Regions from separate parts of the Homo sapiens genome. Here region 1 is linked to region 2. A link means that fine-mapping ties the variant in region 2 to the expression of a gene that starts in the linked region. Tissue or cell type: whole blood. Region 2 holds a variant in brackets; the other region holds the start of a gene. All regions are shown on one strand. Distances are between the middles of the regions.

The links. PIP is the estimated chance that this variant, and not a neighbour inherited with it, causes the effect.
Region 1: APLP2 starts here. The variant in region 2 is fine-mapped to the expression of APLP2 in whole blood (TOPMed, PIP above 0.99).

The regions. Positions count from the first base shown.
Region 1 is chr11:130,068,816-130,071,564 of GRCh38, forward strand. APLP2 (amyloid beta precursor like protein 2) reads left to right here and starts at 1,079. Exons shown (of 17, transcript NM_001142276.2): 1 at 1,079-1,267. The coding sequence starts at 1,163. It overlaps LOC107984432 (a long non-coding RNA gene), which reads right to left and starts at 834. Exons shown (of 2, transcript XR_001748444.2): 1 at 649-834; 2 at 1-298. RefSeq lists enhancers at 1-270, 271-771 and silencers at 688-917, 1,308-1,437, 1,508-1,967.
Region 2 is chr11:130,042,110-130,044,858 of GRCh38, forward strand. No RefSeq gene overlaps it. Among named protein-coding and RNA genes, the nearest start is that of APLP2, 26 kb to the right of the region's middle. The variant G/A (reference allele first, on the strand shown) is at 1,616.

The DNA.
Region 1 (2,749 bases), 27 kb after region 2:
CTACTCCGCGGACAGTCTCTTCCTTTCTATTGTCAGCGTCCTGGGGGTAGGGTTGTGTTATGCATTTAGTTGAACCTGAAGGGACTAGTCCAGGTCTCTCAGAAGGCAGTACCTAACTCACAGGCGACTGAAAGGAAACAAGGCCAGCGGAGCCCTGGCGGTGGCGAGGCTGTGCCAATTGCTAAATGGGGCAGCAGGACGTTTTTCTCTACTGAAGTGGCAATGCCGCGGAGCAGGAAGGCAGAGTAGCAGGTCTCCCGCTAGTGCGTCTCAACCGAAGAAGCGGCGTGATCTCTTCCTAAAACACACGAGGAAGGGGGCCTGGGCTGTGAGGCCGGCGTGGTTCTTGCACCCCTGGTCTCTATCCCTGCCTGGGCAACTGCTGGGAAGGAAGGGTCGGCAAGAGGCCTAAAGACCGGAGGCCAAGGGTGCGGAGCGCGGCCGGACTCAGAGGCGAGGACCCGGCGGAGAGGCCTGGGCGGAGCAGGGCGGGAGAGGCGCGCCCTGAGTAGGGCTCGGGGGAGGACGATGGCTGCCTCCTGCGGTCCTCCCCCTGCCTCGGGGGACGGCCCTTGGCAGACCGTCCCGGACTCCTAATTCATCCTGTTTTTAATAAAACCATTTCCAGAATCAAAAAGAGGGCGGTACCCAAAGGAGTCTGAAGAATGCCCAGCAGGGGCAGGGGAGCGGGGCGTGCCCGTATCGGGAGGCTGAAGGCTGACGGACCAGCGCAGCAGGGACAGATAACCGCGCCGGGGGGCGGAGGCCAGAGCCAGCCCCGCGCCCACAGGGTTGCGGCCCCAGACCCGCCGCGCGCACGCCCCCGCGCCTGGCGGCCACAGGGTCCGGAGCGGGGGCGGGGCCATCCGCGGCCGGGGGCGGGGCCGGGCGGGGGGCGCGCGGTTGGACCGGGCGGGAGGAGCAGGCTCTTCCATCTCCTGATTGGGTCTGGACCGCAAGGGGGCGGGGTCTTGAGGGGTTCTGCGGGCCGGCATTGGGAGCCGCAGAAGGAGGGCGTGGTAATATGAAGTCAGTTCCGGTTGGTGTAAAACCCCCGGGGCGGCGGCGAACTGGCTTTAGATGCTTCTGGGTCGCGGTGTGCTAAGCGAGGAGTCCGAGTGTGTGAGCTTGAGAGCCGCGCGCTAGAGCGACCCGGCGAGGGATGGCGGCCACCGGGACCGCGGCCGCCGCAGCCACGGGCAGGCTCCTGCTTCTGCTGCTGGTGGGGCTCACGGCGCCTGCCTTGGCGCTGGCCGGCTACATCGAGGTGGGGACCGGGCGAACGCCGGAGAGTCGTCTCCTTCGCCCGCCGGAGGAGCGCGGACTGCGGGCGGGCAGCGGGGTCCGCGGCAGGGCGGGCCGGCGGTGCGGCGCCGGGGGTCCGGCTCTGCGGCGGGTCTGGCGCGCCCTCCCCCGCCCGTCCCTGCTTGGCGCAGTGCTTAGCGCTGGAGGTCGGGCTGCCTCAGCCGCCGCAGAGGCCAAATGAAAGGCGTCGGGGCTGCTGGGGGCGGCCGTCCGCCTCGGCCGACCCAGCCCCCAACCCGCCCGCGGCGCCGCCACCTCCTCCGGGGACCCAGTGCCCCCGGGCGCCCGCCCCGCCCTCCCCCGGGACAATGCCAGGGCGCTCCTCTCCCGCCGGAGTCCGCGGCTGGGCTTTCTCCAGGGGCGGCCCCGCGCGGACCCCGTACGCTCCCTCGCGCGGCACCGGGGCCTCGGCTCCGGGCCTCCCACCTGCGAGCGGCGGGCTTCGCCTTTGTTGCCAGGTGGACGCGGCCCCGGCCTTCGCGCGCGGCAGGGATGCTGCGAGCCCCGGGGGAGCTCCCGCGCCAGGCCGCCCGCTGCTCCCTCTGCCGCCTGGGGCCGGGTCGCGGACGCGCATTTTTTAAGTGGCGCTGTTTGCCTGCGTCCGTAGACCGAGGAAACCCGCTCTGGGTGCGTTGACCGCTTTCGTGAGGGTTTCAGTGAGTAGGGAAGGTGCCCGCGAAGGCGTGTAAACTGTTGGAAAAATCGTCCTCTTCGGGTGTCAGAATTCCATCAGTGGTTGTGCTTCGAGGTCGCACCCTGAGCATCCCCGCTGCGAGAAAGGCGAAGCGGCAGGGCCGGGGGTTGGGGAGGCCGCGGGAGGGGGCGGGGGCGGCGGGGTCCGCGGTGCGGGCCGGAGCGGGCAGCCTTGGAGGAGCCCTGCTGTGGCCGAGGGAGACGGCGAGCTTGATCTTTACTTCCCTTCTCGAAGTGGTGCTTGAACTGCTGGTCTGGAATGTGTAGTTCTGGTGTCGTTTATTTCTTCTCCCTCTTCGCTCTTTTAAAAATTACAACTGGTTTCTGCATACTTAGCTAATTTCAGAGAGACCTGAAGACTGGATTTGATTGGGCATTAATTGAGAGCTTTCTTTTAAAGACCTCAGGTTTAGAATATATTTACTTCTACAGAATGTTCAAGTATTTCCACGGGTAAAAATAAATCTAATAAAAAGCCTCTCTGATGGAACGGCTTAACACCTTTGTATTCATCCAGTTTAAAGCTTTGTGACTGTGAGGGTAAGAAAGGAGTTCAGCTTTAAAGAGAAATAGTTAACGTTTATCTACAGAGGATTTTGGATTGCGATTGTTTCAGTGTGTCCACACAATGGTCAGAGTTGTATCTGTGATCCCTGATATGTCGCATGAAAACAGCTAGGTGAGTGAGATGGGAAGAAAAAATAAAGGCTTTCGTATGGAAGATGGGACTTCACTAGTGGGTCGGGTGTCA
Region 2 (2,749 bases):
AGGCTGTATCATACAGCCTGGATGTGTAGTAGGCTGTGCCATCTGGGTTTGTGTAAGTGCACTCTAGGATGTTTGAACAATGATGAAATCACCTGATGATGCGTTTCCCAGACATATCCTGTTGTTCAGCAACGCATGACTGTACAGTGTACAGTGAAAATAAGCACGAGGAAGGCCAAATGGTCTTAGTTTGTGGATGGATGCTGTTGCCTAAAGAAGGCTTGCTCTCTCTCTGAGTAGGGACAGAAAGGAGGCTAAGCGTGAGAGAGGCGGCTTTGCCATACTAGATGCAATCACACTGGAGACCGGGGTCCACGGTCGAGAACAGAGAAGCGCTTTCGCATTTCCCGCTGTTCCGCAGAGCTGAAAGACTGAGGCCAGACACCTCCTCAGGGCTTATCACGGTGGCTCACCTGCTCCTGCGGCTTCATCATCATCCAGTCAGAGTCCGTGGAAGCGGAGCTGGAGATGCTGGGGATAGGGGTTGGGGTCGGGTGGCAGGTAGCATGACGTGGAGGTTCAGTGAGGGGCCTGGGAGAATTGCTGAGAATGGGATAGTCCGAAAGGCGCGGCTCGCAGCCTGTGGAGTGTGAGGGGACCTGGGGAGCCCAGTGTGCACCCCGTAGAGTTTGGATGTGTATGACCCTAATCGTGACCCCTAGGAATGGGAGCTGAGGGACAGTTGAAGTGGTCAAGCCCTGGTGACCCTCCCATGTCGGGGAACTGCACAGCTCACCAAAAAACTCACCCTCACACTGCCATGAGAGTCTGAACTCGGATTCCTGGACAAGCGGGCATCAGCAGCCAGGGAGGGGCCGTGCGGCCCAGAGAGGACCACAGGGCATCTCTTGTGGAGGGGGGCATGTGTTCCCTTCCCCGGAGGAGAAAGGAACCTAGAGGGATGCAGAAGGGCACCAGGCAAACACTAATTTGGATATGAAATTAAAAATTTAAACGACACTGGCTTTTTCTGGTAACTAAAACTGATCAGATATTTATGGGCTCTGCCCAAGAGGTAGTTAAGAGAAACTTACCTTTCCTCAAGTTAATGGCTTACCAAGAATATGGGAAATATTTGGAAAGAGGGAATAATCTTTCTTCCCTACAATGAGAGAGAGATTGAGTATGTGGAAGGTGGTAGTTAAAGAAAGTGAAATATTTCTTTTGCTACTCCATTTGATTCAGACTGTTCAGTCAATTGGGGAGAGAAGGATTAAAACAATTTCAAAATATTTCATTTTTGTACCCTGCCATTCAACTAATGCCTGTTATTGTAATATCTAAAATTATCTTTGATATCTGCTATATTTTGGGAAACTCTGCTCTAGGGGAAGTGAAGAGTTGCTCCCGGCCCCACCCTCCAACCCTGGGGTTGCCAGCGAAGGTACTGAAAGATGTGGGGTAGAATGGTGTCTAACCTGTTTCTCTTCTCAATCTTCAGCAACCTTTGTCTACCTTTTATACTTGACCAAAATGACCATTTTCTCTCCATTTATATTTTCCTCTCTTTTTAACCACAGAGCCACCAGCGTTCCAGCTTGTTATTTCCTCTTTCTGTTTTCCTCATTTGCTCTGTTTCTCTTCCCTCTTCCTGATTTCTTGATGCTTGCCTTTC[G/A]TTGGTCAGCAAGGGAGAAGTTTGCCCAACAGACTTTACTCTCCACTGACCGTTCTTAGGGCAAAATGAAAACCCCAGGCTGGAGCTGCCCAAGGCACTGTGAGAGGCAGTGCATCAGCCGGGTGCAAAATCTCCCGCCTGCAAAGCCAGGGGTGAAAGCCAGGCTGTGATTTCAGGTTCAGCCTCTTGTTAACTATTCAGCCTTGGGCAAGTCTCAACTTCTTTTTTTTTTTTTTTTTTTCCCAAGGAAGAAGAATTTTTCTTAGTACAGCACAAAATGAAAAGTCTCCCATGTCTACCTCTTTCTACACAGACACGGCAACCATCCGATTTCTCAATCTTCTCCCCACCTTTCCCCCCTTTCTATTCCACAAAACCGCCATTGTCATCATGGCCCGTTCTCAATGAGCTGTTGGGTACACCTCCCAGACGGGGTGGTGGCCGGGCAGAGGGGCTCCTCACTTCCCAGTAGGGGCGGCCGGGCAGAGGCGCCCCTCACCTCCCGGACGGGGCGGCTGGCCGGGCGGGGGGCTGACCCCCCACCTCCCTCCCGGATGGGGTGGCTGCCAGGCAGAGGCGCTCCTCACTTCTCAGATGGGGCGGCCGGGCAGAGACACTCCTCACTTTCCAGACGGGGTGGTGGCCGGGCAGAGGGGCTCCTCACTTCCCAGTAGGGGCGGCCGGGCAGAGGCGCTCCCCACATCTCAGACGATGGGCGGCCAGGCAGAGACGCTCTTCACTTCCCAGACGGGGTGGCGGCCGGGCAGAGGCTGCAGTCTCGGCACTTTGGGAGGCCAAGGCAGGCGGCTGGGAGGTGGAGGTTGTAGCGAGCCGAGATCACGCCACTGCACTCCAGCCTGGGCAACATTGAGCACTGAGTGAGCGAGACTCCGTCTGCAATCCTGGCACCTCGGGAGGCCGAGGCAGGCAGATCACTTGCGGTCAGGAGCTGGAGACCAGCCCGGCCAACACGGCGAAACCCCGTCTCCACCAAAAAAATACGAAAACCCGTCAGGCGTGGCGGCGCACGCCTGCAATCGCAGGCACTCTGCAGGCTGAGGCAGGAGAACCAGGCAGGGAGGTTGCAGTGAGCCGAGATGGCAGCAGGACAGTCCAGCTTCAGCTCTGCATCAG